Homo sapiens: one gene and its partners. The protein of the gene in region 2 interacts with the protein of the main gene of each other region in a biochemical or structural test. Each region holds a gene or a part of one and is shown on either strand. Other genes may lie near its edges.

The links.
Region 1: the proteins of YES1 (region 2) and DENND2B interact in a surface display test, tested with the Homo sapiens proteins (one large-scale study listed by IntAct).
Region 3: the proteins of YES1 (region 2) and IFT52 interact in a surface display test, tested with the Homo sapiens proteins (one large-scale study listed by IntAct).
Region 4: the proteins of YES1 (region 2) and MAMLD1 interact in a surface display test, tested with the Homo sapiens proteins (one large-scale study listed by IntAct).
Region 5: the proteins of YES1 (region 2) and TENM1 interact in a surface display test, tested with the Homo sapiens proteins (one large-scale study listed by IntAct).
Region 6: the proteins of YES1 (region 2) and IRS4 interact in a surface display test, tested with the Homo sapiens proteins (one large-scale study listed by IntAct).
Region 7: the proteins of YES1 (region 2) and INPP5D interact in a surface display test, tested with the Homo sapiens proteins (one large-scale study listed by IntAct).

What each region holds. Positions count from the first base shown.
Region 1 is NC_000011.10:8,709,217-8,713,485, reverse strand, and holds part of DENND2B (DENN domain-containing protein 2B), read left to right. Parts: intron 1-750; coding exon 751-935; intron 936-2,254; coding exon 2,255-2,364; intron 2,365-2,528; exon of another isoform or gene 2,529-2,571; coding exon 2,572-2,641; intron 2,642-4,269.
Region 2 is NC_000018.10:720,618-725,541, reverse strand, and holds the end of YES1 (tyrosine-protein kinase Yes), read left to right. Parts: intron 1-909; coding exon 910-1,118; 3' UTR 1,119-3,954; downstream 3,955-4,924. UniProt on the Homo sapiens protein: Non-receptor protein tyrosine kinase that is involved in the regulation of cell growth and survival, apoptosis, cell-cell adhesion, cytoskeleton remodeling, and differentiation.
Region 3 is NC_000020.11:43,642,775-43,645,974, forward strand, and holds part of IFT52 (intraflagellar transport protein 52 homolog), read left to right. Parts: intron 1-3,200. UniProt on the Homo sapiens protein: Involved in ciliogenesis as part of a complex involved in intraflagellar transport (IFT), the bi-directional movement of particles required for the assembly, maintenance and functioning of primary cilia. Required for the anterograde transport of IFT88.
Region 4 is NC_000023.11:150,470,914-150,475,182, forward strand, and holds part of MAMLD1 (mastermind-like domain-containing protein 1), read left to right. Parts: coding exon 1-577; intron 578-2,766; coding exon 2,767-2,889; intron 2,890-4,269. UniProt on the Homo sapiens protein: Transactivates the HES3 promoter independently of NOTCH proteins. HES3 is a non-canonical NOTCH target gene which lacks binding sites for RBPJ.
Region 5 is NC_000023.11:125,197,359-125,201,627, reverse strand, and holds part of TENM1 (teneurin-1 isoform 1 precursor), read left to right. Parts: intron 1-4,269. UniProt on the Homo sapiens protein: Involved in neural development, regulating the establishment of proper connectivity within the nervous system. May function as a cellular signal transducer.
Region 6 is NC_000023.11:108,733,764-108,738,757, reverse strand, and holds the start of IRS4 (insulin receptor substrate 4), read left to right. Parts: upstream 1-2,194; 5' UTR 2,195-2,413; coding exon 2,414-4,994. UniProt on the Homo sapiens protein: Acts as an interface between multiple growth factor receptors possessing tyrosine kinase activity, such as insulin receptor, IGF1R and FGFR1, and a complex network of intracellular signaling molecules containing SH2 domains.
Region 7 is NC_000002.12:233,066,691-233,070,959, forward strand, and holds part of INPP5D (phosphatidylinositol 3,4,5-trisphosphate 5-phosphatase 1), read left to right. Parts: intron 1-4,269. UniProt on the Homo sapiens protein: Phosphatidylinositol (PtdIns) phosphatase that specifically hydrolyzes the 5-phosphate of phosphatidylinositol-3,4,5-trisphosphate (PtdIns(3,4,5)P3) to produce PtdIns(3,4)P2, thereby negatively regulating the PI3K (phosphoinositide 3-kinase) pathways.

The DNA of each region.
Region 1 (4,269 bases), on a different chromosome or scaffold from region 2:
ATCACTTGAACCCGGGAGGCGGAGGTTGTAGTGAGCTGAGATCATGCCACTGCACTCTAGCCTGGGCGACAGAGCAAGACTCTGTCTCAAAAAAAAAATTGTAGATCTGGAGGGTCAGAGAGGGGTACAGAAGATTACAAGGACCTCTTCTGGCAAGAAATGTGCCGTAGACTGAGGAAACTGTTTCTCTGGAGGCCCTGCAGTCCCCCATCTCCCCTGTCCCCAGAGAGGAGCTTGAAAAGGTTCTGGAACCTTCACATTCCAGGGTCCTTGGATAAATCTTTGTGCTTTCTCTACTGGGAAACCCTGCCTAGGCCTTCCTGGATGATTATCCTCTCATCCCCAGGCAAATGGGCAAGTGGACTTTGGATGTAGGAGCATGTCCTGCTAGGGGCCCAAGGATGAAGCCTTCGTGGATGTTCGTGTATTCTAGTCCTTTTGGTACAGGGACAGAGTGGGTGCCAAGATACATCCCTGGGTTTGCCTGGCCTCGGCAGTCCTCCTGCCCCAGCTCAGTCTCCAGAGGCTCCAGGAGGACCAGGCCCGCAGCTTCCTGTGTCAGGGCAGAGTCTTTGTGCAGGGGTCAGCACCTTGTGCCTGCCGGTCCTCCTGCACTGTGAGCTGGGGATGGTATCAGACTAGGCTCACGTACTTAAAAGTGCTCCACAGCAATGGAGCCCTGAGCCAGGGGTAGAGGAGTTAACATGAGGCCTGTGAGGGTCCATTCCCTGATGTGCAACCTGCCTCCAGCCCACACACAGCGCCTGGTCCACATCCAGTCGATGCTGAAGCGCGCCCCCAGCTATCGCACGCTGGAGCTGGAGCTGCTGGAGTGGCAGGAGCGGGAGCTTTTTGAGTACTTTGTGGTGGTGTCCCTCAAGAAGAAGCCATCGCGAAACACCTACCTCCCCGAAGTCTCCTACCAGTTTCCCAAGGTGAGGCCTTCTCTCTCCCCACCTTGCCCATATTCCCCCTCTTCCATCCTCTATCCGCCAGGCCTATCTGGGGAAGGAGAGAGATCTTGTTCGTCATACGTCCTCACCGAGCTGCCACAGCCCTGAACCTGCCTCCTCTCAGCCAGGAGGGAAGACAGGGCTGCAGCGGGGGTGGGTTTGGGCCAGTGCTTGTTCAAAGGATGAGGACTAAGAAAGAACCTCTCAATGTGCTTATAATAAAATCCAGAACAATTGAATACCATACAGTTCACCCACTTAATGTATACAGTTCAGTGTTTGGGTGTATTCACAGAATTGTGCAATCATCACCACAGTCAATTTTAGAACATTTTTATCACCCCAAAGAGAAACTCTGCACCCACTAGCTGTCACTCCGCACTTCTCCCACCAGCCTGTCTCTCACTCCGCCTTCCCTGCTTGTCGCCAGCCAGCCTGGCCTCCCTCTTCTTCCTCTCACACTCAACCCCTCTCTCTCTGCCATTGCCTCTGCCAGGAATGTGCTTTCTCCAGCTCTTCACGTGGCTGCTGGCTCCTTCTCATTTCTCAGGCTCTGCTCAAGTAGGACCTCTTTCAGGAGGTCTGTCCAGACACCTGCATGGAGCCCCTCCCCTGCCCAGCTTGCTCTGGTACATAACCCTGCTTATTATTTTATTTTTTTATTCGAGACGGAGTTTCGCTCTTGTTACAGAGGCTGGAGTGCAATGGCGCTATCTCGGCTCACTGCAACCTCCGCCTCCTGGGTTCAAGCGATTCTCCTGCCTCAGCCTCCCAAGTAGCTGGGATTACAGGCATGCGCCACCACTCCTGGCTAATTTTGTATTTTTAGTAGCGATGGGGTTTCTCCATGTTGGTCAGGCTGGTCTCGAACTCCCAACCTCAGGTGATCCGCCAGTCTCGGCCTCCCAAAGCGCTGGGATTAACAGGCATGAACCACCGCGCCCGGCCACCCTGCTTATTTTTTTTTTAAGCCCCGCTCTGAGATGTTGTGGTTGACCATCTCACTCTGCTGACGAGAATGTGTAAGGTCGGGGACCTTGTCCCCTTTGTTTTCCATTGAGAGCCAAGAGCCCTGGCGCATAGCACCGTGTCAGATGCCATATAGAAAGCACTCCGCTGGCATTTATTGAATGAATGAATGATGACTCTGGGCTCTGTAAGAATTCGGAGTGGGACAAGGGTTGCTGAGATCATGCCCGCTAGTCAGTGGCATCTAGGGCCCTCAGGGGAGGAGGGGCTTCTCAGCCACCACCACCCGCCCTCAGGTTCCATGTCATCTCCTGGTTCCTTCTTCCCTGCAGCTGGACCGACCCACCAAGCAGATGCGAGAGGCAGAGGAAAGGCTCAAAGCCATTCCCCAGTTTTGCTTCCCTGATGCCAAGGACTGGCTTCCTGTGTCAGAGTATAGCAGGTGAGGCCTGGCCTGGCCTGAGGGAGGAAGGAGCATAGCCTTCTTTACCCCCATAGCGTGGGCACCTGAGTGGGGCCTGCTCTAGTCTCATCCTCTCCTACAGCAACCTGGCCCTTCACCCCACGTGAAAATGACGGTCCCTATTCTTGGGGGCTGTTTCCTAGGTCCTCTCACACCTCCCTGATGCCAGACCTCTCTTTGTTCCAGTGAGACCTTTTCTTTCATGCTGACTGGGGAAGATGGCAGCAGACGCTTTGGCTACTGCAGGCGCTTACTGGTGAGTGAGGCCATTCGGTCCTCAGGCCAGCAGGCAGGGGATAGGCCAGGGTGTGTGTGTGTGTGTGTGTGTGTGTGTGTGTGTGTGTGTGCCCTTCTGCAATTTTAGCTTGTATGAAATCCTATGTTATGCTTCCTGAGGCCACCCCGAACCCCCTGCCAACACACACACTTTCACAGGTGAGGCTACCCTGGGAGAGCAGGGCTCAGAGTGGTGCTTCTGAGGGGGCCTTAGGATCGGAGGTTATCTGGAGTAAGGGGAGGGAGTGGGTTTTCATGTCTTTTTAGTTTTTCTCTACTTTTTCGTCATTTCCCTTGGGATCATGGGCTCTGATTGCTGGTCTCTGGTTGCAGGATCGAATCGCCCCCAGCAGTATGTGTATATGCATCAGATTAGGTGAGGGACAACCTTCCTCACCCCCATACCTGGCCAGCCTGTAGTGGGGAGGAGGCCTTTCTGTGGTGTGGTGGGGCTGGAGATTGGGCAGGGACAGAGACATACCTTCTCTGGGAATCTGAGAGAGATACCTTGAATCTAGGGGAAAGGGATTAGGTTTTGAAAATGTTAGCCATTTTGTAAAGAGAAGTCCCTCACCATTTCCCTTCCCATTAGTCCTGGGAAATAGATTGGGTAGAGGCTCAGAGCCTGGCCCCTGCTGCACTCCCAGCTTGGAGCTACTGGGTTGTTGACAATGTTTTGGGGTTTCCAGGCCTTAGCAAGAGAAAGCCTCCCCAGATACCAGTCTAGGGGTAGATGAAGGGGGCAGGAGCCCTGAAGGAAGGATTTGGGGCCGGCCATTCATTCATTCAGAAACACTTATCATCCCTTATCAGAAGCCCTGACCTATTGAGAGTCAGGCACGTGCTATTGAGAGTCAGGCACGTGCTCATATAAAGATGAGTTTAACATGGATCTCCCTCTCGAGGAACTTTAGATGGCCTGTTACAGGAGATTGGACTTTCAACACAGGAGGGAAGGGCCAAGGGAATAAGAGGGAATAAATGTTGTTTAGAACCTGTCACATTCCAAGCTAGATGCTTCAAGTATGTCTTTTAAAAGAAAATGATCACAATAGCCCATGGGTTATTATTATCCCTGATCCATAGATTGGAAAGTCAAAACTCAGAGGTAGAATGACTTGCCCAAGGTCATACAGAACCAGAAGGGAAGTCGTTTGTCACCAATTTGTACTCTTGGATCACCCCCAGAGGATGGACTGGGGAGAGGGGGCGTGGGGAGGTAGAATGCCCATGGAGGGGCAAAGGGCGTATGCACAGGAGTGATGCCAGGTGGTGAGCCAGGCAGAGGCCAGCATGCCTCTGGCCGCCTGGGCCTCCCAGGCTTGGAAGGAGTGTTGCGAAGGCTGCCTTTGCTGGAACATAGATGGAGCAGAGCTGCTCCTTTGTAGTGGGGCTGCTGCCCCCAGGGAAGAGCGTGTTTGTCCTGGCGTGCTCAGAGAGGGCCTGGGCTGGGTCTCTGCCAAGGGGGCTGGCACTAGCTCGGCATTCCTGCAGATTGGACACAATGATTCTGATCCAAATCCCACATACTTGATTTAATCACTTGGGGCTTTAGGGGAGGCGGGGGAGAGGGAAAGAGACAGGAGTGAGTTTCAGGCCTAATATGGA
Region 2 (4,924 bases):
ATTGAGTTTCAAAGTAATGTCATGTAGAGTTTTTTTTAATAGTTTAAAAAATGTATTTTGAGAAATCACTTATTCCTCAAAAAAATAACTAAAAATCTAAATAGTAATGATTTAACCCCATTACATTTTCTTTAGAGAATCATAGACTATTTTAAATATCATTCCTGATTGGTTGATAAAGTTTCCAAGAGATACAAGGGATGGCCTGACTTGCAGGCAGGGAAGGAAGGTGATGCGGGAGATAGGACGTGAGGTGAGGTTGCTGGCTTAGTGAGACACTATCAGGAAGAATTTGGAAAAGGAGGCATTTTGCTGTCCTGTGATAAGATGGGGTGAACTGCTGATCAGGGGGTTGAGGAAGGGGGGATTACAAAGGAATACAAGAAAGGAACTATGTGTAATATCTTGAAGAAAGTCAAACAGGTAATATTAGATAAGGAAACTTTCACAGAAGTAATTCAATATAAAGTTATGTAGTTGGTATATTTGGCAAAACCAAGACTAGAACTTTCTTCTGAATTCCTGTTTTAAAGTTCTTTCAGACAGGATCTTGCCACCATTCCTCAGTAACCCAAGTTTGGTCATTGTTAAATGTTAATATTAGAAAGTACCAGTACCTCATAGTAGCACCCTAAATTCTTATTAATCAAATGGGGTTGGCTTTTGAAGACATTAGTATTAAAAATAAGATATAAGATGGAATGAAAAATTAGACATGTTAAAACATAGATTAGCATTTTCTAAGCTCTTCTTGATATTCTCATGTTTAAAATTTATTTTGTTGCTTTGTTAAAAGAATTGTTTCACTAAATAATATACTTTGAATGAGTTAGTGGCTAGGGGGTTTGTTATGTTTTCCTAGTGGTAGTTAGGACCATTGTTCTTTAATGTTTTAATCTTGTGTATTAGGTATGGTGAACCGTGAAGTATTAGAACAAGTGGAGCGAGGATACAGGATGCCGTGCCCTCAGGGCTGTCCAGAATCCCTCCATGAATTGATGAATCTGTGTTGGAAGAAGGACCCTGATGAAAGACCAACATTTGAATATATTCAGTCCTTCTTGGAAGACTACTTCACTGCTACAGAGCCACAGTACCAGCCAGGAGAAAATTTATAATTCAAGTAGCCTATTTTATATGCACAAATCTGCCAAAATATAAAGAACTTGTGTAGATTTTCTACAGGAATCAAAAGAAGAAAATCTTCTTTACTCTGCATGTTTTTAATGGTAAACTGGAATCCCAGATATGGTTGCACAAAACCACTTTTTTTTCCCCAAGTATTAAACTCTAATGTACCAATGATGAATTTATCAGCGTATTTCAGGGTCCAAACAAAATAGAGCTAAGATACTGATGACAGTGTGGGTGACAGCATGGTAATGAAGGACAGTGAGGCTCCTGCTTATTTATAAATCATTTCCTTTCTTTTTTTCCCCAAAGTCAGAATTGCTCAAAGAAAATTATTTATTGTTACAGATAAAACTTGAGAGATAAAAAGCTATACCATAATAAAATCTAAAATTAAGGAATATCATGGGACCAAATAATTCCATTCCAGTTTTTTAAAGTTTCTTGCATTTATTATTCTCAAAAGTTTTTTCTAAGTTAAACAGTCAGTATGCAATCTTAATATATGCTTTCTTTTGCATGGACATGGGCCAGGTTTTTCAAAAGGAATATAAACAGGATCTCAAACTTGATTAAATGTTAGACCACAGAAGTGGAATTTGAAAGTATAATGCAGTACATTAATATTCATGTTCATGGAACTGAAAGAATAAGAACTTTTTCACTTCAGTCCTTTTCTGAAGAGTTTGACTTAGAATAATGAAGGTAACTAGAAAGTGAGTTAATCTTGTATGAGGTTGCATTGATTTTTTAAGGCAATATATAATTGAAACTACTGTCCAATCAAAGGGGAAATGTTTTGATCTTTAGATAGCATGCAAAGTAAGACCCAGCATTTTAAAAGCCCTTTTTAAAAACTAGACTTCGTACTGTGAGTATTGCTTATATGTCCTTATGGGGATGGGTGCCACAAATAGAAAATATGACCAGATCAGGGACTTGAATGCACTTTTGCTCATGGTGAATATAGATGAACAGAGAGGAAAATGTATTTAAAAGAAATACGAGAAAAGAAAGTGAAAGTTTTACAAGTTAGAGGGATGGAAGGTAATGTTTAATGTTGATGTCATGGAGTGACAGAATGGCTTTGCTGGCACTCAGAGCTCCTCACTTAGCTATATTCTGAGACTTTGAAGAGTTATAAAGTATAACTATAAAACTAATTTTTCTTACACACTAAATGGGTATTTGTTCAAAATAATGAAGTTATGGCTTCACATTCATTGCAGTGGGATATGGTTTTTATGTAAAACATTTTTAGAACTCCAGTTTTCAAATCATGTTTGAATCTACATTCACTTTTTTTTGTTTTCTTTTTTGAGACGGAGTCTCGCTCTGTCGCCCAGGCTGGAGTGCAGTGGCGCGATCTCGGCTCACTGCAAGCTCTGCCTCCCAGGTTCACACCATTCTCCTGCCTCAGCCTCCCGAGTAGCTGGGACTACAGGTGCCCACCACCACGCCTGGCTAGTTTTTTGTATTTTTAGTAGAGACGCAGTTTCACCGTGTTAGCCAGGATAGTCTCGATCTCCTGACCTTGTGATCTGCCCGCCTCGGCCTCCCAAAGTGCTGGGATTACAGGCGTGAGCCACCGCGCCCAGCCTACATTCACTTCTAAAGTCTATGTAATGGTGGTCATTTTTTCCCTTTTAGAATACATTAAATGGTTGATTTGGGGAGGAAAACTTATTCTGAATATTAACGGTGGTGAAAAGGGGACAGTTTTTACCCTAAAGTGCAAAAGTGAAACATACAAAATAAGACTAATTTTTAAGAGTAACTCAGTAATTTCAAAATACAGATTTGAATAGCAGCATTAGTGGTTTGAGTGTCTAGCAAAGGAAAAATTGATGAATAAAATGAAGGTCTGGTGTATATGTTTTAAAATACTCTCATATAGTCACACTTTAAATTAAGCCTTATATTAGGCCCCTCTATTTTCAGGATATAATTCTTAACTATCATTATTTACCTGATTTTAATCATCAGATTCGAAATTCTGTGCCATGGCATATATGTTCAAATTCAAACCATTTTTAAAATGTGAAGATGGACTTCATGCAAGTTGGCAGTGGTTCTGGTACTAAAAATTGTGGTTGTTTTTTCTGTTTACGTAACCTGCTTAGTATTGACACTCTCTACCAAGAGGGTCTTCCTAAGAAGAGTGCTGTCATTATTTCCTCTTATCAACAACTTGTGACATGAGATTTTTTAAGGGCTTTATGTGAACTATGATATTGTAATTTTTCTAAGCATATTCAAAAGGGTGACAAAATTACGTTTATGTACTAAATCTAATCAGGAAAGTAAGGCAGGAAAAGTTGATGGTATTCATTAGGTTTTAACTGAATGGAGCAGTTCCTTATATAATAACAATTGTATAGTAGGGATAAAACACTAACTTAATGTGTATTCATTTTAAATTGTTCTGTATTTTTAAATTGCCAAGAAAAACAACTTTGTAAATTTGGAGATATTTTCCAACAGCTTTTCGTCTTCAGTGTCTTAATGTGGAAGTTAACCCTTACCAAAAAAGGAAGTTGGCAAAAACAGCCTTCTAGCACACTTTTTTAAATGAATAATGGTAGCCTAAACTTAATATTTTTATAAAGTATTGTAATATTGTTTTGTGGATAATTGAAATAAAAAGTTCTCATTGAATGCACCTATTAATCGTTTTAGTTGCTATTCATATTCTCATTCGTTTTTTAAAAACTGATATATTCTGAATTTATTCTTCCATTGAGAAAAAAATGTTCAGTTACTTGTAACTACTGAGCAGAATTTAATCAATCCTTTATTAAATTCAGAACATTATTGAACTCATTCTTTGTGGTCAATTTTCTTTTTTTTTTGTTTTGTTTTGTTTTTTTTTTGAGACGGAGTCTCGCTCTGTCGCCCAGGCTGGAGTGCAGTGGCGCGATCTTGGCTCACTGCAAGCTCCGCCTCCCGGGGTCACGCCATTCTCCTGCCTCGGCCACCCGAGTAGCTGGGACTACAGGCGCCTGCTACCACGCCCGGCTAATTTTTTGTATTTTTTAGTAGAGACGGGGTTTCACCATGTTAGCCAGGATGGTCTCGATCTCCTGACCTCGTGATCCGTCCGCTTCGGCCTCCCAAAGTGCTGGGATTACAGGCGTGAGCCACCGCGCCCGGCCTGTGGTCAATTTTCTATGTCAAGTGAGTGACATTATTTTTACAAGTATTTTCTTCTTCTTAAAATTATACCAGCAAATACAGTTAATGCAGAAACCTAAGTAATTTGAGTGTAGCTATTCACAATCTATGTGAAGAATATAAAATAGAATGACCAGTTTTATTATAAATTAAGGGGCTTAATTTTCTAAAAAAGAAAAAAAATGAGCCTTATCTCTGTGTTTTATAATTATTATATAGGATAATGAAAATAAAATTGTCTAATACTAAATTTTGAATGGTCATTCAAAAGCATTTATTTTCAATAAGTTAATTACAAAATTATTAGCTTTTTCTCTGATTTCTAAAACACTTCATTTAGTAAACATTTATTTTTGTAGTATAGCAATAGTTCCTCAATTTAAGAATGTTTTTCTAGTTTCCTGTTTGCCTTTTAATTTTCCATATAATTTCTGACATGTAAGTTGTACATTTGTAGATTGTCAAATCTGTTCATTCCTTTTTTATGTTTAGAAGTCTTCATCCACCCCAAGATTAATATTCATCTATCTATATTATAGTTTATGCTTCTGTGTGTGTGTGACAGGATCTTGCTCTGTTGCCCAGGTTGAAGTGCAGTGGCACCATCATGGCTCACTGC
Region 3 (3,200 bases), on a different chromosome or scaffold from region 2:
ACTTATGGAACCTATATACTAGCTGGAGGATGTAGACAATAAGCAGTAAACATAAGTGAGTCACATAGGATGCTAGAAAATGGTAAGTGCTTTGGTATAAAAGAAGTGGAGGCTGGGCGCAGTGGCTCACGCCTGTAATCCCAACACTTTGGGAGGCTGAGGTAGGCAGATCACCCGAGGTCAGGAGTTCGAGACCAGCCTGACCAACATGGTGAAACCCCCTCTCCACTAAAAATACAAAAATTAGCCGGGCATCATGGTGCGTGCCTGTAATCCCAGCCACTCAGGAGGCTGAGGCAGATGAATCACTTGAACCCAGAAGGCAGAGGTTGTGGTGAGCTGAGATCGTGCCGTTGCACTCCAGCCTGGGCAACAGTGAGACTCTGTCTCAAAAAAAAACAAAAAAACAAAACAAAACAAAAAAAAAACAGCTGGGTGTGGTGGCTCACACCTGTAATCCCAGCACTTTGGGAGGCCGAGGCAGGTGGTTCAGCTGAGGTCAGGAGTTTGAGACCAGCCTGGCGAACATGGTGAAACTCCATCTCTACTAAAAATATAAAAATTAACCAGGTGTGGTGGTGCACGCCTGTAATCCCAGCTACTAGGGAGGCCGAGGCAGGGGAATCTCTTGAACCCAGGAGGCGGAGGTTGCAGTGAGCCAAGATGGCACCACTGTACTCCAGCCTGGGTAAGAGAGTGAGACTCTGTCTCAAAAAAAAAACAAAAAAATAGAGCTGGGTAAGAGGGATCAAGTGTGCTGAGTGTGGCCATGATGACTGGTGAGTATTAAATAGGGAGATCAGGGTGGGTTTCATTGCAAAGTTGTATTGGAGCAAAGATTTGAAGGTGTTGAGAGACTTAGCCATGCAGATATCTGGGGGAGGAGTGTCCCAGGCAGAGGGGAGATGTGTGCAAAGTTCCTAAGGCTGGGCTGTGCCTGGTATGCTTGACGAACGGCAGTGATGCCAGTGTGACAAGAGAACAGAGGAAAGGACAGAGCAGTAGAACATGAGGTGATCACCTTATGTAAGAAATGATTTTCTCAGGCCGGGCACCGTGGCCCACACCTGTAATCCCAGCAATTGGGAGCCCAAGGCGGGCAGATCACAAAGTCAAGAGATTGAGACCATCCTGGCCAACATGGTGAAACCCCATCTCTACTAAAAATACAAAAATTAGCTGGGCGTGGTGGTGCATGCCTGTAGTCCCAGCTCCCATACTCGGGAGGCTGAGACAGGAGAATTGCTTGAACCTGGGAGGCGGAGGTTACAGTAAGCCAAGACCACACCACTGCAGTCCATCCAGCCTGGCGACAGAGCAAGACTCTGTCTCAAAAAAAAAAGAAAAAGAAATCATCTTTCTCTGACTGAGGACCAAGAACTTCAAAATTATCCCTGGCCTTCTTTTTTCCAAGGATTTCAAAAATTGAATGCCCAACCAGCTTTGGTAAATAGGCATTCATACACTACTGATGGAGAATAAGTTGGTTCCACTTGTCTGGAGATATTTTTATAATACTGTTGAAAAGCCCTAAAATGTATATACCGTTGACCCATTCTAATCTTCAGAATTTGTTTTAATAATATAATTCGGAATACGTACAGATTTATCAACCAGGATTCTCAGTGCCACATTATTTTATAGAAGAAAAATCTTCATCAATAGGGAACTGGTTAAGTATCCTAGGGTACATCCATAAGATAAAAAATGTTTTTAAAAATGTTTGGCCAGGAATGGTGGCTCACGCCTGTAATCCCAGCACTTTGGGAGGCTGAGGCGGGTGGATCACGAGGTCAGGAGTTCAAGACTAGCCTGACCAACATGGTGAACCCTCCTCTCTACTAAAAATACAAAAATTAGCCAGGTGTGGTGGCGTGCACCTGTAGTCCCTGCTACTCAGGAGGCTGAGGCAGGAGAATTGCTTGAACCCGGGAGACAGAGGTTGGCAGTGAGCCAAGAACGTGCCATTGCACTCCAGCCTGGGAGACAGAGTGAGACTCTATCTCAAAAAAATAAATAAAAAATAAAAATAAAAATGTTTAAGGACTTGGGCCAGGCGCTGTGGCTCACATCTGTAATCCCAACACTTTGGGAGGCTGAGGTGGGCGGATCACTTGAGGTCAGGAATTCGAGACCAGCCTGGCCAACATGGTGAAACCCCATCTCTACTAAAAATAAAAAAATCAGCTGGGTGTGGTGGCCCGTGCCTGTAGTCCCAGTTACTCAGGAGGCTGAGGCAAGAGATTCGCTTGAACCTGGGAGGCGGAGGTTGCAGTGAGCCAAGATTGCACCACTGTACTCCAACCTGGGCAACAGAGTAAGACTCAAAAAAAAAAAAGTTTAAGGACTTGGGAATACATTCGTGATACAGTAAATATGTGGTGGGGAGAGACTAAAGAACAGTATATAGAGAGATTCTACTTTCTTTACAGAATACAATACACACATAGAATTATTTTGCATAATAAAAAAATAACATAAAGATATTTATCCTTGGGGCCCAGTGCGGTGGCTCACGCCTGTAATTAATCCCAGCACTTTGGGAGGCCAAGGCAGGTGGATCACGAGGTCAGGAGATCGAGACCATACTGGCTAACACAGTGAAACCCCGTCTCTACTAAAAATACAAAAAATTAGCCGGCCGTGTTGGCGGGTGCCCATAGTCCCAGCTACTCAGGAGGCTGAGGCAGGAGAATGGTGTGAACCCGGGAGGCAGAGCTTGCAGTGAGCTGAGATCATGCCACTGCACTCCAGCCTGGGTGACAGAGTAAGACTCTGTCCCCCCCAAAAAAAGAAGATATTTATCCTTGGGCTGGGCACAGTGGCTCACGCTTGCAATCCCAGCACTTTGGGGGGCCAAGGTAGGTGAATCATTTAAGCCCAGGAGTTCTAGTCCAGCCTGGGCAACAGAAACTCCACATCCATAAAAAAATACAAAAATTAGCCAGGTGTGGTGGTGTGCACCTGTAGTCCCAGCTACTTGGGAGGCTGAGGTGGGAGGATCATCTGAGCCTGGGGAGGTTGAGGTTGCAGTGAGCAGTGATCATGCCACTGCACTCCATCCAGGGTGATAGAGTGAGACCCTGTTTAAAAAAAAAAAAAAAAGATAGTGTTTAATTTTTATTTTCCTTCTTTATTAAAATTTCTATAGTGGGCCGGGCGCGGTGGCTCACGCCTGTAATCCCAGCACTTTGGGAGGC
Region 4 (4,269 bases), on a different chromosome or scaffold from region 2:
GCCTGCCAGCAACCCTGGGCCGTCCCCACCCTATCGCCCAGAGAAGCTCTCTAGCCCAGGCTTGCCACAGCAGTCCTTCACCCCACAGTGTTCCCTGATCCGAAGCCTCACTCCCACCAGTAATCTTCTAAGCCAGCAACAGCAGCAGCAGCAGCAGCAGCAGCAAGCAAATGTGATCTTTAAGCCCATAAGCAGCAACTCATCCAAAACCCTGAGCATGATCATGCAGCAGGGGATGGCAAGCTCCAGCCCAGGAGCCACGGAGCCATTTACTTTTGGCAACACCAAGCCCTTGTCCCATTTTGTTTCTGAGCCGGGTCCCCAGAAGATGCCCTCCATGCCTACCACCTCTAGGCAGCCTTCCCTGCTCCACTACCTGCAGCAGCCGACACCAACGCAGGCCTCCTCAGCCACTGCCTCCTCCACGGCCACTGCCACCTTGCAGCTGCAGCAGCAGCAGCAGCAACAGCAGCAGCAGCCTGACCATTCTTCATTCCTTCTGCAGCAGATGATGCAGCAACCCCAGCGTTTTCAGCGATCAGTGGCCTCAGATTCCATGCCTGCTCTGCCCAGACAGGTAAGACAATCTCATATCTGGCTGTGTTCTTTTGTTTTGGAAGTAACAACTGTGTTTCATGTTGCCAATATCTGGCTCTGGAGGGTAAATCCAGGCTATAGTTCTCTCTGAGACTGGAAAAGACTCTGAAAAAGTCTACTGAAGTCAGCTAATCCTGTGTGGTTAAAAGCACAGTGTTAATAAGGCCAAGGTTATGGTTTCAGTGCCTGTTCAAGTCACCTAACTTCCCTAGAAGGAGAGCTGCACCCACAAGGTGCTCCCGGTGGAAGGAGCCAGGTGGGACAAGTCCGAATACAGAAATGCCTTCCCTGCACTGGGCCATGTAGAAAGACTAGTGAATCCTTCTTAAGATGTAAGGAAATTGCACTGAAGCATTTAATCTTATCCCTGCTGGCAGAAGGACAAACACTGAGCCTTCTAGAAATGCCACAGCAAACTTTTGCTGAGCAACCTCAGCATGCCATTTGTCACTGTGCTGGATACTCAGTCAGGTCGTGAAAGGAAAAAGACAGGTATTTGCAAGGTAGTCACTCTCATCATCTCCATTTTACAAATGAAGAAACTGAGGCTCAGAGAGTTGAAAGACTTGCCCAGAGTCACATAGTTCGCAAGGGACAGAGCAGGAACTTGAAGCCAGGTGGTCTCACTCCAGAGCCTGTGCTCTTCTTGAAATTACTTTTGACTTCTCACCCTCCCTCATCTCCTCCAGGCTTTTCAATCATGAAATGCAGCTGATTCCACCTGGGTCGTGTCTATCACAGTTCCCAGTTTTCATTTCTGTGACCCCTGCCTGTATTAGTTATCTGTGGCTGCATAACAAATTACCCCAAGCACCAGCTTCGAACCATATGCATACGTTACCACCACATCCTGATTTCTGGGTGTTAGGAATCCTGGCATGGTTTAACTGAGTCTTCTGGCTGAGTATCTCCTAAGGCTGCAGTCATCTCAAGGCTCAGTGGGGAAGGATCTGCTTCCAAGCCCACTCATGTGGTTGCTGGCAGGAAGCAGTTCCTTGCAGGTTGTTGGACTGAGGCCTCGGTTTCTCATGAGCTATTGGCCAGAGGCCTCCCTCAGTTCCTTGCCACACGGTCTCTTCACAGAGCATCTCACAACATGGCAGCTGGCTTCATCTGAGTGAGCATGAGAGAGTGTGCCAGTGAAGCAGGGTAATGGGGAGAGAGGGAGGAGGGATAGTGCCAGCAAGTCAGAAGTCACAGTCTCTATGACCTGGTCTAGAAAGTAACATCCCACCACTTTTGCTGTATTCTATTCATGAGATGTAAGCCAGAGGAGATTGCATGAGGGTGTAAATACCAGGAGGCAGGGTTCAGTGGGGCCAGGTCACACATGTGCCTACACAGAATACTCAGTCACCATCTACCATCCCTCCTTCCCATTCCTCTCATCCTTGCCCAAGTTCAGGTCCTCTTGATTCTTTATCTGAACTCATACAGTTGACCCTTAACTGGTCTCTCCCAATAAACCATCCATTGCTCTGAGTCGTCTTGCTAAAACAGTGACCTGATCATGTTTTACACTTGCTCAGAAGTCCCCAGAGGCCCATAAGCTGGCCCCACCAGCCTCCTGGGCCCTTCAGCATCCATCAGGCCCTGCCTTGCACTTTGTTTCTATTACCCAGAAGTGCCTGCAGCACTTGGCCCACGCCATCTGGTCTCAGCCTTTACTCTGGCCGTTCCCTGGGCCTGGTCATCCCTTCCCACATTTTCTCTCCTGTCCAACACCTGCAGCTACTTAGGGCTCAGGCACCATCCCTCCAGGAAGCTTTTCCATGACTGTCCTCAGTACTTCCATTTCCCACTGTGCCTCCCTCTTCTGGAGAGTGGTCAAGGAGGAGATTATAAAGTGCTTGGCCAGAGACCTGGCCCAAGGGAAGCACCTGTCAAGGGCTGACCTCTTATTTAAGAGCTCTGTATGAGCACACCTGTGGCAACCCCTAGAGTACAGAGGTTGTGTCTTTTCCATCCAGGTTTCCTGGAGCATAACCATGCAGAGTGCTTGACACCAGGGAGTTGGTCGTTTGATAGACCATGCGGCAAGCAGAGCTCCCATGGGGGTGGCCGGGGGAGCGGTGTGGAGATAGGCAAAGCACATAGGACACGGCAGGCCACCTGGGGCTCGGGCCCTGGTCTGCAGTTCAGGAGCACTTTGGTTTGATTTTATTATAGGGCTGTTGCCATCTGTTTGCATGGACTTCTGCAGCTAGCTCGGTGAAGCCCCAGCATCAACACGGGAACTCTTTCACTAGCAGGCAAGATCCTCAGCCTGGAGACGTGTCACCGTCTAACATTGTGAGCCTTTCTGTTTTGTTTTGTCTTCAATTGGGTACATTTTTGTAGACTGATTGTGTTGTCCCAGAGCTGGATCAGCTGGCTCAGAGGGAGAATTCTTAATTATTGGGGTCATGCAAATCATACCCAACCAATTACCTAGGTGGGGTTGGAGAAAGTGTTCAGGAGAAAGACCGAACAGTCAAGCTCCCTGGGGCTAGGAGCACAATAAAGGGGGCAAGCGACTTTTGCCAGCAGAGGCAAGAAGCTGGGTCCCCAAATTGGAAATGCTATTGCCACCAAGAGCTGCCTTTCCAGCCCATGCTGGCCTGTGCCCAGGGGCCAGGCATGGGACCTGGTGCTTCACCTGCCTCTTCTCATTTTAATCCTCAGAGGCAGGGGCTGTTACCATTCTCCTGAGAGTTGGGGGGAAAGGCACAGAGAAGTGACCGAAGTTGCCCACAGTCACACAGCAAGCTGGGGCCAGAGCAGACAATCTGGCTACAGAGCCCACACTCATACTCCCATGCATGGGGCACTGCCTCTGTAGCCTTCTGTTTCCACTGTCACCTCTTAACTGTTTCCTCCTCTACAAATCAAGGTGATGATAGGTTGTCTGAGGACTAAGTGTGTTAATACATCTAAAGCACTTTGAACAGGGCCTGGCATAAAGTATGTGCTGACAAGGGATTTGCTGTCACGATGACTCTACCTCCTGACCCTGTGCTCCCAGATCTGTTTCATGGGACTAAGATGTGGTTCTAAAAACCAGTAGCTGTGGCAGGACAGACACAAGCCACGCTATCTCCAGACCCTGTACCCACCATGAGATTGATAGGAGTTGTGCAGCCTCTGAGCCTTGTGGGCTCCTTTTGCTCTAGGCCCTGCCTCTCCTGGACAACTCCCAGCCTGATGGGAAAGGGGAAAGGGGAAAGGTCCATCCCTGCTTTGCAGACTGGGGATCTCACTTTGCTCTTTCTTGAGCTCTCCGGCACTCTCACTCCGCTCCTCTCCCTAGCACTCTGTTCTCTACCTGGTATTCTTCCAGGCCTCCAAGCTGGGGGAATCTCAACAGTCCTTCTGTTTCTTCTTATGGCCTCTCCCTATTAACTCTAAGACCTAAGAACTCAGCCCTGGTCATTCTTCCAGGGGAGAGAAAAAAATAAAGAAAAAAGCGAGTGTTTGAGGCAAGAGCTGGGACCGCTGTAGAAGGACAGATGGTGGCCCCAATGGTGGGGAAGAACATATTTCCCACTTCCAGCAGGCTAAGCAAACCTCCCAAGTTTTACTGATGGCCAAGCTGAGCCTCAGGAACACTAATTACCTATGATATGGCATTTACTAGCCTGTTACATTTGCCGTGGACGATAATGGTTACCATGGAAAAACTGGACATTCATT
Region 5 (4,269 bases), on a different chromosome or scaffold from region 2:
GGTGTTTCTATAAAACAACTCTATGAAGAAATGTTAACATTTTCATAATAAAACTAGTAGAGTCCAGTCCTGAGAACAATGTCAGCTATACATAGCAGAAAAAAACCCCACAAATATTTTTGCATACATGAAGTAGTATTTTCCATTAGGTTTAGGTTCCAATTATGAATTAGGGACAGTCATGTCATTTGACAAAATATACAGTGAGGCTAAAGGAAAGAATGCTTTGTAGAATCATTGTGCTGTAAAGGTGATTAAGATTTCAAATATTCAAACGTTTAGGTGTATTAAAATAAAATTGTATTATACATAACTATCATCACATTCAAAGGCCTAATTCAGTCTGAATACCCTAGAATTCTCAGTGTTTCAATTCAGCTATTATATGTGTAAATAACACCGACATAATCATAGTTTCCCTCATAGTCATTGATCCTTTCTGATACCTTTACCAGAAAGATTCTTGCTGAAGCAGAACAGTCTAGCATTCAAGTTTATTCTATACAATATTACTTTAAATTGTCAAACTGCAAAACATTCCTGATATGTTGTTTCTGAAAACAGAAAACTTAGTGGAAATTTATTTTCTGTGACAGCCTTAAAAACTTGGAAGTAGTAAGAAATTTTAGTGTTAATTAATAAAACAAACATTTTTCATATTCTATGTTAGAGATAGACATTTGGAGTCCATATAATTTTTGCTTGAAGCTTGCTTTTCCTAAGTCATTCAGTTTCAGATTTAAGTAAAGCTATCAAGTAGTTGGTATAGATTATGGTTAATAAATTCCCTAAAGTTTCCCAAAACAAGTTAATTATTATTATTTATGCATTTATTTATTTACTTACTTATAAATGACCAGAGGTCAAAAGAAGACCAGTACTTTGAATAACTGAGTCAGTGATTAATTTTTTTGATGAAAACAAATTTTCTTATAGTACTCATATTTGTTCTCTCTCTCTCTCTCTCTCTCTCACACACACACACACACACACACACGGAAGCAATTGCTTGTGAATGCCTTGAATCAGATATAAAACATGTACAATAGCTTTATTAAAATTATATATATTTGTTAAATTGCTGTGGATTTTAACCACAAAATTAATAATCCATGCGTACTTAAAAAGCTTCCCATCACTTAACATTTAGAAGAAAGGTTTAAACTGGATTCCTAGTATGACTACAGGCAGATGAAAAATATTGTAAGGTACAGAATTTAGCAATTGTGACCAACAGCATATACCCACGACTGGAAGTGTAACTGCTGATTATAAAAATTAAAAGGAATCAAATTTCAGAAATGCTCACATATACCACAATTTCTTTAAATCTTCTACAGCTTCTGAGTGTTAGATTAAATCACTACTTTGAATGGAGATTGCTATTATTTTTCCTTCCCCTAAAAGGTAAAAATATTCTGAATCCTGGCTTAATATATTATTTTTATTCCTTTCTGTTTTCCATTGATTTTTTTTAGAACAGAGGAAAGTAAATATCAAATATAACCAGCTAGAACCATGCTTAGTTTGAGCAGGTGAATGCTATAAAAGGCTTCACACAGCTTTTAATTATTCTTAACAACCTTGATGACCAACCATAGGTGTCTGTTCAGTATTCGGTGCTCTGTTATGGCAATTTATATAATGTATAGAGATTTTGTAGTTTGCTAGACGTGCTGTGGTACAATTTAGCAAGACCAGCAAAATTGCTTACATTTGGAACCCATGAAAAATAGGGCTGAGGAAATTGGAATATGATGGCATAGACTGAAAATTATTATATAACAATATTTATATCAATTGCAATGCTAACATTTCTGTATAGAAATTAAGCTAATTTAAATTTGAAAAGTAAATATTTTTACAGGTGACATGGATCCCTAATATTTTAAAATAGTAACTTAGAGTCTAATAAATGAAGTCTATTAGATTTTTATGTAACTTCAGGACCCATTTCAAGGCCTGGAAGTATAATCTTGGATAATTTACAACTTAAAAAATTATTCTAAATTGTACTTCCTGTCCGAGCCTCCACTTTAGGTAAACAATAGCATATGGTGAAACATGCATATATGCCAACTAACCACTACCTCTTGGATGATGTTTTTAATGTGATGTAATGATTCTGAAATATTGGATTCTCCACCCCCGCTCTATTCTAACTGTAAGAGTGGAGAAGCTAATTGGAAAATGGACACATAAAAACATGTTAAAAATCTCTTTTCACATGGGTGGATAATCCCCTATGAAGTTCTTACCTGGGAGCCTTTATATTTCTGTTTATGGTAGATATGTGCCAAGGTTAATACTTTTTCTCTGGGTGCTTATGACAAATTTCTATGACTGAATCTAGGTGACACCCAAATATGTGACTGCACCATTCTGTTAACCATCCAACTGTTTGGGGTGAAAAACATCTGGTTGTTTGAGAAAATTGTTTACCTAGTTTCTGGGTGTTTTGGAGTCACTTAACAGGCCGATGACCCTTAATATCCATGTCAAAAGAGAAAGAAAAAATAAAATAAAACACTTTAAAATACATGTAAAATATCTTAAACACTCTTGGGTTACTATAAAATGCCCAATGAACTAAATGCCATCGTGAATCTACAGCCTTCTATAAAATGTATAAGGAGATGTTGCTTGCATTCTACAACAATTACAGAAACAGAAACACACTGACCTTTTCAGCAAGGCAGGAAATTAAAAACTTTAAATTCAATTCTACACCCTACTCCCCCTTCCCTGCCCCCACCCCTGCCCACTGTACTGATTCATCAGCTTAAAGAAATTGACTTAAGGGGCTTGATACAGTGGCTTCTTAAAATTTCCTGTACCTCATTTTCCACTGATTGTGCTACTGCCATGGAAACTAGATGGGACAGACAGCTGGGAGTCACTAATTCAGAATGGGAATCTGCTTGTTAATTTAATTTCATGCCAGCCTGTTGGTCCCTGAAAGTAACTGCTGTAAAAGGCTGGGGAATTGAATTTGCTAGAAATAAATGATTAAGCTGAACGAAAAATCAGTGCCATCTCTGTCATTTTCCTGAAAATCTTCCTACAACCCTCTTTGTCCCTACTCAAGCAATTTTTAAAAAATAATCACAGAAAGAGAAGTTTGATTTGTGCATTCCTATTGGTATGTATGTATTCTATGGAGCATTTTTTGTTCTAATAGAACATTCACAGCTGTAAAATAGTTTCATAATAGCTATTACATTGAAAAAATATGTTCTTTCAAATTATGATTTTGTAGACTTTGAAGAAGCCTAGTTAGTGATGATAGGAAAACATAATATAAATGATGCTTGAATTTTCCAGTAGAATTGGTTATTTTTCCTTTTCAAATAAAAAAAGTCTTATTACAATATCTATGTCCCACTTTTATTACAGAGACCAAATGCATTTGAATACATTTATTTGAAATTTGTAAAACAGTCATTTTACCAGTCACCAGAAAGCATACTGGTTGTTTTAATTTTATTCGACTAAGTTGTAAATTAATAAGTAGTCAACAATGAGGAAATTGCCTTTTAATGTTTCTCATATTCTGTTGTAATGTTTTTGTGGCTGATTATGAGTTATGAAATTAAATTTTGGAATCACAATCTCTATGATGAGCTGAATTGCAATCCATGTCAAGTCTTTTGCAATACCGGCTAAAGTCCTGAGAAACTAATATTACTTTTCTGTCAATTTGTAGCTGTAAGCAAATTTCTGTATTACGACTGAGAGAAGATCTTTGATAATGAAACAAAGAATGGAAAGATAAATATATGTAAAGGTCAGAAGGTATTTTTCTGTTTTAAAGTTAATAAAATTTCAAAATATATATGTTCAAGGTAGAACTATTAATGATAGAATGAAGCAGTTATTCAAAAGTTTAGGAAAATTAATATCCACATTTTTACAGTTTAGGGAATACTGAGAATATCAGTATCCAGTTGTTGAGTGTTGAATTACGTGTATTTTATTCTTTGGTGTATTTTTTGTTACTTGGACTATATCTGTGTGATACTAAAATCTGACTAAAACTTAAAAAAATTGGGACAATTATCACGGAACTTGTAGAATTCATAATATTGGTATCTTCTTTGTCATGTCGATTTCCTCTAACCTTTCAGCAGATGCTTGCATTTGGATGAACAATGGAAAAAGTCATTCATTCATCTGGATGGTTCCAGCTTCCACTGTTTACTCAAATCCTCAGTTTTTATGGTTCTATAGCCTCGGTTTCCCTTTTGAAATCACCATATATTTATTTTT
Region 6 (4,994 bases), on a different chromosome or scaffold from region 2:
TCCCATTTCATTTAATATTCATTTTGATATTTTCAATGTCATGTTATTACTCAAAGCACTTTCAAATATGTTGCCTTATTTGTCACATTTCTCTTTAAAAAAAAAAAGAAAAAAACCTTGTGCTTGGAAAGACTTATAAAATATCCTAATGACTATCAAACAAAATCCCAAATGAGAGCATTTGTTATCATTTTGGTTGTAAGTGCAGGGAATCTTGTATATATGTGACTACGCAGCTGAAATATGTAGCAGTCACAGTCAGGGATCTCTCAGCATCCACACTCGTTCTGCCTCTAGCTCCCTTCCGAAACCACGGCTGCTTCCAGCACCTGTGAATATATTGCACTTATAAACCATTGGCAGCAGAGGGAATGTTATTGAATATTTGTAATATCTGGGGGACAACCCAAACCAATTTCTTTTTCTCTTAAATTATAGCATCAAAAAGGAGCCATTTATTCAAATACGTGTGTTCTGTTTCTAACAGAGCAAATTCTTAAGAGGGCAGAAATATGGTTTATTTTTATGATATACATATTGCCTAGTTTACTGTTGGATTTTATAAATAGTACCCTTTGCCATATCAACCCTAGAGCAAGGGTGAACTGACATTCCATTCTTTCAGAGAGAAATGCTGTATTTCTCTCCTCCTCTCCCTCCATTCCTCTTTGCAAACCTGGTCACTCCTTTGATAATTCACGACCCATCTCCACCATTAAGAGTCTAAAATCCTAGTCAAGTAATAACTGGGGTGGTGGGGGAGAGAGGGAGAGGGAGAGGGAAAGGGAGAAGGAGAGGGAGAGAGAGAGAGAGACTTGAGGAGGTTGCACTTACACTCCGGCAGTTTTTCCAGAAATGAGGGAGGCAGTAGTTCTTACTTTTGTGATGTCAACTTGTAGACTGAAATGCATCAAAGCTCCTCTTCTTCTTCTTGTTGACGCGAGGGATGTGAAATGTGCTCTAGAATATGCATTCAGCGTGGTCCTTTGTTCTAGGTATGAGCTTTTCTTTTTCTAAAGTTTTTCGGTCTCGCTCAAGGAAAGGAAAGCAATATTTTGAGATTCTTTTAAAGGCACCTTCCAAAGCATTTCCCACAGAAAAATACCTTCACAGCCCAACACTGGTTATTTCAGTAAGAATCGAGTCCAATTTTTTCCAATATGGCTGTATACATTGCAGGCCCCCAAATTTGTGCTTTCATAGTCATCGTTAATCAAATAGGCAGAAACACTGTATTTAGGGAACCTGTGTTTCGTGGGCTAGAAGTGCATTCTGATTAATAAAGATCATGTTCATTTTGAATGCATCGCTGTTATTCGTGTGCCTCAGAGTCGCGGGCTTCTGTCAGGGGTGCAGCGGGCTCGGGAGTGCCTGCAGAGCGGTGGGAAGCAGTTCTGAGCGCCCTGGTCGTCAACCCGTTTTCAGGGGGTGCCGACACTTTCTCCCAAGAAGCTCGATCCGCCGCCTTGTGCGGCTGGAAAGAATGAACCAGACTGTGACAGGAACAGAGAATTTATGTGATTGACAGGGAGTACCAGGGCACCCGACTCCATCCCGGGTCACCACGGCTCTGGGATTTGCACGAGTTTACCACCACCATTAACAGCTATTTGCGTAAGGTTGTTTACCGCCTGAGAGCGCCACAAGCCGACAGCGAAGCCACTTTGGGACCCCAGCCACGCCCCCTCTCCCCTCTCCCCTCTCACCCCTCCCTCCCGCCAAACTAATGATTTCGGGGCTGCCTTCTTGCCGGACCCTCCCATTGGCTCCTATCCCAACCAATCAGAGCCTTGCAACAGTTTCACCTGGCTCCCGCTTCCCAAATAAACAAACAAACTGTCCCGCGACTGTGCCCGCTCTGCACCCTGGCGCCGCAGGCAGGCACTGCTTGCGCTACGCCCCCTCCCACCACCTCCCACCAATGGGGCCCCGACTGTGGCGCCCTCTCCCGACCCTGATAGCCGGCCGCTTTCTCCTCCGCCCCTCCAGGCCTTCTCCCGCCCCCTCATGCCTTCCTGGACTCCCTGTTAGAATCAGCTTGGCCAGAGAGCCCGCCTCCTCCTCTCGGTCCTCCCTTGGCCCACAGGCCTGGAGATTGACCGGGAGGATTTGGCACAGCCGGAGGTGGCTCCGCCTCCCGAGCCCGCCGTCTCCTCCCTTGCTCACCTCTACTGGTGGCCGCTCGCGCCCCTCCATTGCGCCGGTAGCAGGATCCGCAGCGGCCGCCGCGTGAGGCTGTGGTCACGTGTTGTTTTGCCCGCTGTCGTGCGCTCAGAGTGGAGTGGGCGGGGGCGCGGGCCAAGGCAGGAGGGGGCTGGGGCGGGCAGACGAGGGTAGACAGCCTCTTCCCCCAACCCTCCCTTTCCTGAATTCCCCCTCCTCCTCGCTCACCTTAAAACCATCGTGCATCACCATGGCGAGTTGCTCCTTCACTCGCGACCAAGCGACAAGAAGACTAAGAGGTGCAGCAGCGGCGGCAGCGGCAGCTCTAGCAGCAGTGGTGACCACCCCGCTTCTTTCCTCGGGAACCCCGACCGCACTCATTGGGACCGGGTCGTCTTGTCCGGGAGCCATGTGGCTCTCCACGGCCACTGGCTCCCGGTCAGACTCCGAGTCCGAAGAGGAGGACCTGCCCGTCGGGGAGGAAGTCTGCAAACGCGGCTACCTGCGGAAACAGAAGCATGGGCACAGGCGCTACTTCGTGCTCAAACTCGAGACTGCTGACGCCCCAGCTCGGCTGGAATACTACGAAAATGCCAGGAAGTTCCGGCACAGTGTCCGCGCCGCGGCGGCTGCAGCAGCGGCGGCCGCCTCTGGCGCCGCGATCCCCCCGCTCATTCCACCGCGGCGCGTGATCACCCTATACCAGTGCTTTTCCGTGAGCCAGCGAGCAGATGCAAGGTACCGACACCTCATTGCTCTTTTCACCCAAGACGAATACTTCGCGATGGTGGCCGAGAACGAGTCGGAGCAGGAAAGCTGGTACTTGCTGCTCAGCCGCCTCATCCTCGAGAGCAAGCGCCGCCGCTGCGGCACGCTCGGCGCGCAGCCGGACGGAGAGCCGGCCGCGCTGGCGGCGGCAGCGGCGGCGGAGCCACCCTTCTATAAAGATGTGTGGCAGGTAATAGTCAAACCCAGGGGGCTGGGGCACAGAAAAGAGCTGAGCGGCGTGTTCCGGCTGTGTCTAACCGACGAGGAGGTCGTGTTTGTGAGGCTGAACACCGAAGTGGCCAGCGTGGTCGTCCAGCTCCTGAGCATCCGTCGCTGTGGACACTCGGAGCAGTATTTCTTCTTGGAAGTAGGCAGGTCCACTGTCATCGGTCCGGGAGAGCTCTGGATGCAGGTCGATGACTGTGTGGTTGCCCAAAACATGCATGAGCTGTTTTTGGAGAAGATGAGAGCCTTGTGTGCAGACGAATACAGAGCCCGCTGCCGCAGCTACAGCATCAGCATCGGCGCCCACCTGTTAACCCTGCTGTCCGCTAGGAGGCACCTGGGCTTGGTGCCGCTCGAGCCGGGAGGCTGGCTCAGAAGGTCCCGCTTTGAGCAGTTTTGCCACCTCAGGGCCATCGGCGACGGGGAAGACGAGATGCTTTTCACCAGGCGCTTCGTAACACCCAGCGAGCCTGTGGCCCACTCCAGGCGAGGAAGACTGCACCTGCCCAGAGGGCGCAGGTCAAGGAGAGCGGTTTCAGTGCCGGCCAGCTTTTTTCGCCGCTTAGCACCCAGCCCAGCACGTCCCCGGCACCCTGCAGAAGCCCCGAACAATGGAGCTCGCCTGTCTTCTGAAGTGTCTGGTTCTGGCTCTGGCAACTTTGGGGAGGAAGGCAATCCCCAGGGCAAAGAAGATCAGGAAGGAAGCGGAGGTGACTACATGCCTATGAACAATTGGGGCTCAGGAAATGGCCGGGGCTCAGGAGGTGGCCAGGGCTCAAATGGCCAAGGCTCCAGTAGCCATAGCTCGGGAGGAAACCAGTGTTCAGGCGAGGGACAGGGATCCCGAGGTGGTCAGGGCTCAAATGGCCAGGGCTCAGGAGGAAACCAGTGCTCTAGAGATGGCCAGGGCACCGCAGGTGGGCACGGTTCAGGTGGTGGCCAGAGACCTGGAGGTGGGCATGGCTCAGGTGGTGGCCAGGGACCTGGAGATGGCCATGGCTCAGGTGGTGGCAAGAACTCTGGGGGGGGCAAAGGCTCAGGAAGTGGGAAAGGATCCGATGGTGATGGTGAACGTGGAAAATCTCTGAAGAAAAGATCCTATTTTGGCAAATTAACTCAAAGCAAGCAACAGCAAATGCCACCACCTCCACCACCTCCTCCTCCACCCCCACCAGCTGGAGGAACTGGTGGAAAAGGGAAGTCTGGGGGAAGATTCAGACTTTATTTTTGTGTTGACAGAGGAGCCACGAAAGAATGCAAAGAAGCCAAAGAAGTGAAAGATGCAGAGATCCCAGAAGGTGCAGCTCGAGGTCCCCACAGAGCCAGAGCTTTTGATGAAGATGAGGATGACCCATACGTGCCAATGAGGCCAGGGGTGGCCACCCCTCTTGTAAGCTCCAGTGATTATATGCCAATGGCTCCTCAAAATGTCTCTGCTTCAAAAAAGCGCCACTCTCGATCCCCTTTTGAAGATTCAAGAGGGTACATGATGATGTTTCCCAGAGTGAGCCCACCACCTGCTCCGAGTCCTCCAAAAGCACCTGATACTAATAAAGAGGATGACTCAAAGGACAATGACAGTGAGAGTGACTACATGTTTATGGCTCCTGGAGCCGGTGCAATTCCAAAAAACCCCAGAAATCCTCAGGGTGGCTCTTCCTCCAAAAGTTGGAGCTCCTACTTCTCTCTACCAAACCCTTTTCGGAGCTCACCTTTGGGACAGAATGACAACAGTGAGTATGTGCCAATGTTACCTGGAAAGTTCCTGGGGAGGGGCCTAGACAAAGAAGTCTCCTATAACTGGGACCCCAAAGATGCAGCTTCAAAGCCTTCAGGTG
Region 7 (4,269 bases), on a different chromosome or scaffold from region 2:
CTGTCTCCCGGGTTGAAGTGATTCTCCTGCCTCAGGCTCCTGAGTAGCTGGGATTACAGGCGCATGCCACCATGCCCGGCTAATTTTTTTTTTTCTTTTTGAGACAGAGTCTCATCTCACCCCTGTTGCCCAGGCTGGAATGCAATGGTGTGTTCTTGGCTCACTGTAACCTCCGCTTCCTGAATTCAAGCAATCCTCTGCCTCAGCTTCCCAAATAGCTGGGATTACAGGTGCCTCCCATCACACCCAGCTAATTTTTGTATTTTTAGTAGAGACGAGGTTTCACCATGTTGGCTAGGCTGGTCCCGAACTCCTGACCTCAGGTGATCTGCCCGCCTAGGCCTCCCAAAGTGCTGGGATTACAGGCGTGAGCCACTGCACCTGGCCCTGGTATACAATTCTTTATCGTGCTTTTAGTGCATTCACAATGTTGTGAAACCAACACCACTGTCTGATTCCAGGACATTCTCAATACCTCGAAAAGAAAAGAAACCCTGTACCCACAGCAGTCACTCCCTATTCCCTCTCCACCCAAACCCTGGCAGCAACTAAATGACTTTTTGTCTATGGATTTATCTTTTCCGGATGTTTCATAACTGGAAACATACAACATGTGGACTTTGGGGCCAGCTTCTTTCACTGAGCACAATGCTGTCAAGCTTCATCTGTGTTGTGGCATGAATCACTCCTCTCCAGGGCTGACTAATGAGCCACTGTATTGAAAGAACCACATTTTGTTTATCCATTCATCAGTTGACAGGCATTTGGGTTGTTTCCACTTTTGGGCTATAATGAATAATGCTGTGATGAACATTCATATACAAGGTTTTGTGCAAACATATATTTTCAATATTCTTGGGTCTATATCTAGGAGCAGAATTGCTGGGTCATTTAAGTCTAACACTTTGAGGAACAGCTAAACTGTTTTCCTTGGTGGATCCACCATTTTGCATTCCTACTAGCAACATCTGAGGGTTCCAATGTCTCCACTTCCCTACCAGCACTTGTTATTATCTTTTTTATTATAGCCATCCTAGTGGGTGTGAAGTGATGTCTTATTGTGGTTTTAATTTGCATTTCTCTAATGGCTAATGATGCCAAACGTCTTTTCTCATGGTTAATGGCCATTTGTATTTGGAGAAAAGTCAATTCAGATCCTTTGTACATTTAGAAAACAGGGTTGTTTGTCTTTTCCTTGTTTCCTTGGGTTATCAAGAGGACAAAATGGAAAGATGTGAGTGACATTTACAGCCCAAGTCCAGGCATGTGGTAAGCACCCACCGAATGCTTTGCACACATAAAAATCATGCTGGTGCTGGGCAAGGTGGCTCATGCCTGTAATCCCAGCACTTTGGGAGGCCGAGGTGGGTGGATCACCTGAGGTCGGGAGTTCAAGACCAGCATGACCAACATGGAGAAACCCCATCTTTACTAAAAATACAAAATTAGCCTGCGATGGTGGCATATGCCTGTAATCCCAGCTACTCGAGAGGCTGAGGCAGCAGAATTGCTTGAACTTGGGAGGCAGAGGTTGTGGTGAGCCGAGATGGCACCCTTGCACTCCAGCCTGGGCAACAAGAGTGAAACTCTGTCTCAAAAAAAAAAAAAAAAATCATGCTGGTGATCAGGTGTGGTGGCTCACACCTGTAATCCCAGTACTTTGGGAGGCTGAGGCAAGAGGATCATGAGGTCAGGAGTTTGAGACCAGCCTGGCCAACACAGTGAAACCCTGTCTCTACTAAAAATACGAAAAATTTAGCTGGGCATGGTGGCGGGTGCCTGTAATCCCAGCTACTTGGGAGGCTGAGGCAGGAGAATTGCTTGAACCCAGGAGGTGGAGGTTGCAGTGAGCCGAGATCGTGCCATTGCACTCCAGCCTGGGCGACAGAGCTAGAATCCGTCTAAAAAAAAAAATCGTGCTGGCAATTAGTCTTTATGAGCTAAAAGTGACTAGTGACATCTCAGAAGCAGAGGAGTACAGGACCCATCTGTGAAGAACATTCCATACAGAGGAGAGAAGAGAATGGGGGCAGAGGATTGCTTAGGAAACTTCCTGGAGGCCTCTGGGGGATGCTGAGTTGTCACTTGAGGCCTCCTTGGAGGAAGCACTCAGAGAGATGGAAGCAGGAAGAGGACTGAGTGATGCCCCTGTGACGGAGGCTGCTGGGGACAGGGCTGGGAGCCTGGAAGCCAGCAGGAGGAAGGGATGGGGGCACAGAGGCACACAGAGTGAAACCAGGGGCAATGAACATGACATCAGGAAGAAAGGCAGGCATCTGAAGACCACTGGGCTCCAATTGAGGGGGTGGGTGCAGAGGGTACTGAAGTCCTGGGGCTGAGGACGATGGAAGGAGCACAGCATGTTCCATGACGGGGGTACTCAGGCTTGACAGGTGCGGCAGCACGTGGGGACCAGATTCTCTCCCCTGCTCACTTCAGGCTCCTGTTGTCCCCTTTCATTAGGAAAACACGATATTAACAAGTGCAGGCCCCTAACAGTTTGGGTTCAATACTTACTGTAAACAACCCCACGGAGGGCTGTCCCCGAGAGATCATTTGGGACCTCCCCGGAGCAGAGAGGCTTGCTGGACCACACAGCTGTCAGTGGCAATGGAGAAACAAATAGATCTGATAAACAGCAATGTCCTGTTCTTTAGAGTCACTTTAAAAAATGGTATTTATACAAAGCACAGAAAGTACAAAGCAAAAAGCAGAAAAGTAACCACCCCATCACTGAGACACTAGAATAACCATTGTTAATTCACTGGTGTATCTTCTTCTTCTCTCTACCTCCCTGTATGTATGTAATTTCCATTTTGTATATACATGTATTACATGTATATGTATAATTTTAGTCTGAGATTTCTAGCAGCATTAGCATTTTCCCATTTAGTTAGAATTTCTTCCTAAATATCATATTTTAATTTTAGTCTGAGATTTCTAGCAGCATTAGCATTTTCCCATTTAGTTAGGTTTTCTTCCTAATGATCATATTTAATGGATGTACAGGATTCTATTACATGATGTGCGACACTTCATGAAATGATTCTTCTATTATCAGATATTTAAGTTATCAACAGCATTTTGTTGTTATAAATATGACTGATGAAGGTCTTTTGCAGAAATGTTATAAACATGTCTGGTTATAGATTCCGAGGAGTGGAATTACTAGATCGAGGGACAGGAATGTTTTTAAGGCTCTTGATACAGAATGATACATTGCTTTCCAGAAATTTTTTTCCATATATGCACCAGTAAGCTGTACAAGAGAGTGCCCGCCTCATTCTAACCTTCCTATTCTGAATATTTTCATTTCAAAACACAATACATTGCAAGGTGAAGGTGGTGAATGTTCATTTTGATTTGCATTTGATTGTGGTCACGTTGAGCTTATTTGATAGAGTTATTGACCCTCATAATCCCTCTTTCGTGAATGGTCTGTTCAATTCTCTTTGCCATTTTTCTATCGAAGCTATAGTTTTTCTGTTATCTACTTGCACAAGTTTATATCACACTTGTTGCAAATATTTTCATTGTGATTTTCCTTTAAGTTTTATGATTTTTTTTTGACATTCAGGGACTGTAAATTTTTATATAGTGAAGTCTCTCAGTCTTTTCCTTTTTTCTCCCTTCGCTTTTCAATGCAGAGAATCCCTCTGCACACAGAAATTCACTTGTTTCTTCTTGTACAAGGCAGGTGGGTTATGACAGAGACTTTGGAGCTAATAGACTTGGGCTAAGGATTCAGCAGGTTTTTTTTTTTTTTTCGAGATGGTGTCTCTGTCTGTCACCCAGGCTGGAGTGCAATGGTGTGATCTTGGCTCACTGCAAACTTCTGCCTCCCCAGTTCAAGTGATTCTTCTGCCTCAGTCTCCCGAGTAGCTGGGATTACAGGCTCCCGCCACCATGCCCAGCTAATTTTTGTATTTTTTAGTAGAGACGGGGTCTCACCATATTGGCCAGGCTGCTTTCAAACTCCTGACCTTGTGGTCCGCTCGCCTCGGCCTCCCAAAGTGCTGGGATTACAGGCGTGAGCCACCGCGCCCGGCCAGGATCCAGCAGTTTATTTAATTCCACTGGGCCCTGGTTCCCCTTTCGAAAACCAGTGCTAAGAATACCTATGTGGTAATGTTGTGGGGCAGATTGGATGGAAAATATGTATCATGTTTTTAGCACAGTACTTGGTAAAAACAAATGAAGCAGTTATGGGTTTTTTACTTTTGTTTTTGTTTGTTTGTTTTACATTGAACCATTTAATCTCTCTGGAAT